Linked DNA regions of Homo sapiens. The protein of the gene in region 1 purifies or fractionates together with the protein of each later gene. This does not show direct contact. Each region holds a gene or a part of one and is shown in the gene's direction. Other genes may lie near its edges.

Evidence for each region.
Region 2: the proteins of P3H2 (region 1) and EMID1 purify together in Homo sapiens (co-immunoprecipitation; one large-scale study listed by IntAct). This does not show direct contact.

Annotation. Positions count from the first base shown.
Region 1 is NC_000003.12:190,110,625-190,114,645, reverse strand, and holds part of P3H2 (prolyl 3-hydroxylase 2 isoform a precursor), read left to right. Parts: intron 1-4,021. UniProt on the Homo sapiens protein: Prolyl 3-hydroxylase that catalyzes the post-translational formation of 3-hydroxyproline on collagens. Contributes to proline 3-hydroxylation of collagen COL4A1 and COL1A1 in tendons, the eye sclera and in the eye lens capsule.
Region 2 is NC_000022.11:29,212,396-29,215,895, forward strand, and holds part of EMID1 (EMI domain-containing protein 1 isoform 1 precursor), read left to right. Parts: intron 1-2,530; coding exon 2,531-2,644; intron 2,645-3,131; coding exon 3,132-3,235; intron 3,236-3,500.

The DNA of each region.
Region 1 (4,021 bases):
CATCTAGCTAGATTTTAGGTCCCGTGTGCTAAGGAATTAGAATCACAATTGTTCCTCCTTGGGATTGTCCCATATCTGAAAGCCTGGTCAGCTCCTTACCAGTCATCTATTGCCCGTATAAGTGATAAGTGCCACAGAGGCTTAAAATTTAATTAGATGAGGCTGGGCATGGTGGTTCAAGCCTGTAATCCCAGCACTTTGGGAGGCCGAGGTGGGCGTATCACGAGGTCAGGAGATCGAGACCATCCTGGCTAACACGGTGAAACCCCGTCTCTACTAAAAATACAAAAAGAAATTAGGCGGGCGTGGTGGCAGGCGCCTGTAGTCCCAGCTACTCGGGAGGCTGAGGCAGGAGAATGGCGTGAACCCGGGAGGCGGAGCTTGCAGTGAGCCGAGATGGCGCCACCGCACTCCAGCCTGGGCGACAGAGCAAGACTCCGCCTCAAAAAAAAAAAATAATAATAATAATTAGATGAGGGCAGCAATTGCTTGCAAGTATTCTCCCATGGTTAGTCAGCTTGGTTAATCAGGGATTCCTTCCTGGCCATTTTTTTTTTTTTTTTTTTGAGACGGAGTCTCACTCTGTCGCCCAGGCTGGAGTGTGGTGGCGACATCTCGGCTCACTGCAAGCTCCGCCTCCCGGGTTCACGCCATTCTCCTGCCTCAGCCTCCCGAGTAGCTGGGACTACAGGCGCCCGCCTCCACGCCCGGCTAATTTCTTTTTGTATTTTTAGTAGAGACGGGGTTTCACCGTGTTAGCCAGGATGGTCTCGAACTCCCGACCTCGTGATCCGCCCGCCTCGGCCTCCCAAAGTGCTGGGATTACAGGCGCGAGCCACTGCGCCCGGCCTCCTTTAACAATGGAAATTAATAAACTGCTGCCTCCCTTTCTTCATAGACCTCGTCTCTCAGAATCAAATGGATTCTGTTACTAATATCATCTGCTCATTGATAAACTCCAAAGGGGTAGCTGTGAAATTCTCTTGGAAATGCTTGATAAAATGTCAACTTCCTCATAGGCGAGACTTGATACATTTTGAAAGGTGGATAGGTTCACCTAAATGAAGACTTGCTGGATTTGATATAATGACTATTCTTTTGTATTGCTAAGGAATTAAGTAAACTGTGGATTTCTTAGAGTCACAGATTTTATAGCTGGAAGAGACTCCAAAAGAACACCTTCAAGTCAACTAACTGCTTTGGGGCAGTGACGTAAAAGCAAGGGAGGAAAGGGTAATTATTTTGTTCAAGAAATGTAATCTAACAAGGGTGGAAGTGGTAGTTATTAAAATTATAAAAATGCTATAGCTTGAAAGAGCCCTCAAAGATCATGAAAAAATCTATCCCTGTCACTTAACAGATGATGACACTGGCCTCACAGATTCTACAACAAATCAAGAAGGGAAAGCAAATGGAGCTTGGCCCAGAATAGGTTTTCTCACTTCCAGTCTCCTACTCTTTCCAGCCTCTATGTAACAGTCATGGCTACCTCCTTGAGGGGTGGTCTAGTGAATCAGTGGTGCACTTGAGACCTGCAGTAAACCCATTGCCTTCAGAGACAAAGTGGACATAAGACACATCTTCCTGGACTGCCCCCTCCACCCTGCACTTTCATTCACATGATACATAAGTTATTCAGCCAAGAGTCACAGTTGTCTGGTGGAAAATGTTGCATTTCTCATTAGGAAAAATAATTCCTCCTGTCTTTTTTTTTTCCATTCATCTTTCTTCTATAATTCTTTTTCTGTCTTTTTATTCATCCCTCCTTTCCTGCTGTCTGATTTTCTAGCCGAGTATTTTCCACCAGACCTTGTCATCATTTGCCAAATGGCCTACACATATCTCTAAAAAAAAAATTTGGTGTCAGCCTTCTGAGTGGCGTTCCTAGTGTTGTATGTGTGTTTTGCTGGTTTTAGTACTGAAGAGGACTGCAGACTGTTGTTGAAAGAAGCTATTTCTCTTGACCACACTCCTTTCTGCTCTACTGTACTATATCGTTTCCTCTAGTTATTTCTCTGTTTTTCCTTGGCCCTACCCCTGCATTGTCCTGTTAGTAGTCTACACAATGAAAGTACATCTGAAAAGAAGAGAGCAGAGGGGAAAATGGGGAAAGAGAAAATATTGGTAGACCTAAGGTCAGGTTTCTAGCTGTATTAAAATAAAAGCCATTGAGCCTTTCATTTAATCTGATAAACCGTCATAGATATCTACTTTTTGATACTGTTTTTATGTCACTTACCCTCATGTGTGTTGTGCAAGACCTGGGTATGGGTTAGAGGAAGATGTTCCCCACCAGCTCTCTATCTTTCTGCCACTGCCCGTCTGCCACATTAATGAAACATTAGTACTGCAACCATTGCATTTTATGGATGGGAAAATAAAGCTCAAAAGAGAATCGAGTTGATCAAAGTAAATGCAATCAAATGGAAGATCCAGGATTAGAATCCAGGAACCTAGACTCCCTCCAAGTCCTATGACATTGCCATTGACCACTAGTTGTAAGATCCACACTAGAACAGGGTTCCTCCCATCAATGAGCTCACATCTAATATAGAGGATTTCAAATGGCGCATAATTATAACACAAGACCCATGGGGAAAATTGTCAACCATAATACCAGTTATAGGATTATTTTTATCGCACTCCCCATTATTCCATTAATGATAAAGTGACTTAACCCTAGGGACATTAACGATTTCAGCAAGTTTTACTTTTCTCTCTCTGAGCATCTTCCATGAATTCCTGTGAATAGAAGTGGCTGGATCAGCTTAATTATTTAGGTTCCTTCAGGTCTGTGATTGTGACATTGAGGCTGTCAAGAATATTGTTTATGGCAAGAATCCATGCATCAGGTAAATTAGATGCATGGGATTCTGTACAAAATTTTCTGTGTCTTTGAAACCTCATAAGAAAGAAAGAGTCACATTCAAGTGGGGAATAGGAAGACCAGAAACTGGTTTCATGGAGGAAGTGATGTTTAAAATCTTTTATTCTAGAGGGGCCAATGCTAGTTTCCAGATTGGGGTTTTGATACACAGATGAAAGCTACAGTGTCATTTCTATATATAGTATATTAAAATAGAGCCCCTTTGACTGATTTTTTTTAAAAAAGGCATTCTTTCTCCCCACCCTTTACCACCCTATCTTTCTGCAGCTGCACCCTGCCACATTAATGGAACACTAGTATTCCAGGCATCCCATTTTACAGATGGAAAATAAAGGCCAAAAGAGAATTGAGTGGCCCAAATTTTACAGCACTGTAAGAGAAGGACCAGGGTTAGAATCCAAGAACCCTGACTTCCATTCTGTGAAATGGCCGTTGACCACTATTTGTAAGGCCCCGGTGAAAACACAAGCTTAACGAAGTTAAAATGAAACACACAGCATGCCACTTGCATTATATGCCAAATGAAAGAGACCCTGAAATAAAAGCTGCAATCTTCTTATGCAATGTTATTCCTTGCACTACTGTTCTTCCTACTTCTGGGGAAAACTCAGAAATAAGAACCTGAGTCAATGCTGTTTCCCAGTTAGCTTAATGAAAATGAGTGAGGCAAAGGATCTTCTTTGGAAGGGAAGTAGAAGAATAGGAGCCAGAAAGAGGGAGATCCAAAACGTCAGAATTTCTAGAAGTGCAGGGCTATCAGAATGATCCTGCTGGAATTCATTATCTACAAATATTAGATTCAGTTTTTGAGCACATAACAGGAAACTTCTGGGGATTGCAGTTTAATTGTACTGGGACCCTGGAAAGGAATGGATAAAAGCAAAATATGTAATAAAATAAATGATTACAAAACAAAGAAACTTCTAACAAATCTGGAAGCACAGGAAATTTGAGCCAATTTTGACATATTCTTCTTGCTTGAATGCTAAATTTGTAAGTCTGCCAAAATCAATAGATTTGCACAGAGAAATTGACACATAATTAAGACTCTGGGCATAGAGAATTACCTTAAAACCAGATTTGGCTGTTTTTTAAAAATGAGCTCAAATTATAGTATCAAAGACTAATCCAGTA
Region 2 (3,500 bases), on another chromosome or scaffold:
AAAGGGCTGAAATCTTCACCTACTCATTAGGAGAAACATTTCTAGCCTAGGGTTGAGAGTGCAAGCTCTGGAGCCAGAGGGACTTGAGTTCCAACCCTGACTGTGCCGCCTATCATGGGTGCCTGGGGCACGTCCTGGACCCCAGAGTCTCAGTCTTCCCATCTGTAATGTGGCTTTTTTTTTTTTGATACGGAGTCTCACTCTGTTGCCCAGGCTGGAATGCAATGGTGCGATCTCAGCTCACTGCCACCTCCGCCTCCCAGATTCAAGCAATTCTCCTGCCTCAGCCTCCTGAGTAGCTGGGATTACAGGCTCCCACCATCACACCCGGCTAATTTTTTGTATTTTTAGTAGAGACAGGGTTTCTCCATGTTGCCCAGGCTGGTCTCGAACTCCTGACCTCACGTGATCCACCCATCTCGGCCTGCCAAAGTGGTGGGATTACAGGCATGAGCCACTGTGCCCAGCCTGAAGTGGCTTTTTAATAAGAGTGTGAGAATTTAACTGAGCGAACACGTGGACGGCTCTGGGCACAGCTCCTGGCGTGCAGCAAGCATGATAAACATAGCTACTGTTCGTGTAGTAGACGGAGCAGATGGAAAGCCCTCCTTGCTCCCAGACATGGCAGTTTGAGAAAAGTGTCATTTTTTTCTCACTTTATATGCACATATCTGTACATGTGCACGCATATAGAAATAGTTGACGTTCTGTCTCTCTCTTAATGTAATAGAAATGCAATCACTGTATATCCATTGGTCTTTGTCTGCTTTTTTCCTCCCCGTAACTAGGTGTGATAGCTGGGTCTCAGGTCAGCACGCAGAGACCTCGGGCTTTGTCACAGCATCTGGTTTCCCATGTCCGGTGGCTCCATAGCTGTTTAGGCTGTTCCCAGTTTTGTGCCATTTCTGATGGTGCCATGGCAGGCACCTGTCACCTCTGCATGGGATGGCTGGCTGAAGGCTCTGTTGAGCTTCTCCTGCTTCATGGGCCAAACTGAACCATCCCTTCTCCCAGCCTTCCCACCTCCAGGGCTGTACCTAGGTTGTTTCCTCTTCCAGCACTGATTCTGGTGTGGCACAGAAAGATGAAGGGAATTCCACAGGGCCCTAAATTGAGTTAGTTGCCTGGTCCTGGCCCAGGAGTTTCTCCTTCTGGTGGTCTGGGGTGGGGGCAGGGCTGCAGCGAGTGGGGGCTGCACTGTGGTCGGCATGGGAGTCTCTGTGAAGGCCGGGACATTCCAGGTGCTCAGCAGCCCTCAGCCCTGCACAGGGTCACGGGCCCTGTGCTTTTTGCAGGGGTTGGGGAAGGAGGGATGGTTTCAGGTGACCCTTCTCAGCCTGGGTCCCCCACCCCTCCCAGACTTTCTTCCTGCCCTCAAGCCTGGGGTCAGCAGGTTCCCAGGCCGGGGCGTTTACAGAGCCACAGACCGTGGCTCAAGGAGATGAGGAGAAGACGGGAGCTGAGGCTCTGGGATGGCGTCAGAGGCTGGGCTAGGCCATCCACCTTGCTGGGTTCAAATCTGGCTTCTCCACGCACCAGCTGTGACATAAGCAGTTGTCTTCACCTCCCCAAGCCTCAGTTTCCCCTCTGTAAAAACAGGGTGGGGGTACCTTCCTCACCATCAGAGGATAGTGTAAATACCTTTAGCATATAATAAGTGCTCAATATGTGCAGTGCACTCCGATTATTAGTTGGTGTTTGGAGAACTCAGTCCTCTGGGCTTGGGGCATTGATTACACATCCCAGCCATTCCACGGAGGGGACATGGGAATGGGTGAGACAGGGCCTCTCCTCTTGCATGCTGGCGGAGGGGGCAGGCACAAATTGGCAGCTTAATTCAGCGTGACAGGTGTGCAGATGCTGCGGGAGCCAGGGCAGGGCACCATCAGAACTGCTCGGGTCAGGGTGGAGATGGGAAAGGATGGAGGGAATAGGCCATGTCACATCTGGGCTTTGAAGGTAGGAGGCGCCATGGGGAGAAGCGGAGGAAGGGTACTCCAGGCAGAGGGCCCAGCACCAGCAAAGGCCTGGGGCAGGTGTGGGTACAGGAGATCCTGAGGGTTGGGGAGTTGGGTAGGCAAGGCAAGGATGTAGGCAGGTTTCCATTCTGTGACACTGCCTCTAGGGAGGGACCGAGGGGCAGATGGAGAGGCCACTCACTGTAGTTGTCCAGGCAAGAGCCAGGCAGTGATGATGGCCTGGATGGGTCAAAGTTGGAGAGGAGAGAAGTTGGGGAGCGAGAGCTCAGGGGAAGATGGCCCGCTTCCATCTTTCCCCTGCCATTCATTCCTCAAGACCTACTGAGAACTCTCTGCACAGCCCCACCCCTAGGGCCATGACATTCACCCCTCAGCCACAGGGACTCCCCCCAGCCATTTGGGCCCAAATGACTTTGCAAGCTCAGGGCTTCTCGCTGCCTGGGGATTCAGGGCTCTTGAAGAGAACACGGACGTCCTCACCCATCCTCCTGGAGTCCCCAGCAGGGGACCCTGTGTGGTACCTGAGTTTCCTCTCTTTGGGTCTGTTTCAGGAACTGGTGCTCCTATGTGGTGACCCGCACCATCTCATGCCATGTGCAGAATGGCACCTACCTTCAGCGAGTGCTGCAGAACTGCCCCTGGCCCATGAGCTGTCCGGGGAGCAGGTAAATGAGGTGGAGAAGGAACTGATGGCATTCCAGGTGGAGGCACAGTTTGGGCAAAGGCCTGGTTGGGGGACTGCATGGGGAGTGTGGGGGAAGACTGGACCCCAGGGTGGGCGGAGCAAAGGTAGCATCAGCCGACACCATTCTCAGCCTATCCCCTGTGCTGTTGAAGCACCCTGGAGGGCTTCCTGAGGGATGGATACACCATTTGCCTGCATTCCTTTACTCAGTGAGTATTCACGCTGGGCTCAGGCCAGCCCAGCCTGCAGGGTCTTCTTGTCCAGCTGGTATCCAATCTCCAATCCCTGTGGCAAGGTGGTGGGGGGATGGAAGGGCTGAATCCCAAAATGCAGGAGAGAGCCTCCAAAGGGACCTGGAGGCAGCAGAGGATCCTGGAAGCTCTAGGTTTGTCCCCATGGGTGTCCAGGGCAGTGGGAGAGGTCATGGAGGACCCTGTCTCAGCTGGGCCACCTGGGGACTCTTTCAGCTACAGAACTGTGGTGAGACCCACATACAAGGTGATGTACAAGATAGTGACCGCCCGTGAGTGGAGGTGCTGCCCTGGGCACTCAGGAGTGAGCTGCGAGGAAGGTAGGACTGCCCGGCCGGCTCCCGGAGCCCTGCGACAGCAGGCCAGGTGCCTCCCTGCAGGTGCATGGAGCCGTGAACTATTAAGAGAGTCATGCACAGTACCATGCCTGCTGGGGCCAGCTGCACAGAGCCTGGCTCAGACACAGTCAGTGCTTGTTGTCCCCCCTGCCCCCCACGGTGACCGCTTGCCTCTTGGGAGACTCTCAGGACCCCCAGAAGAATTTTATATATGCTGCATAGCTCACATTTTAAGTCATGCTATCCT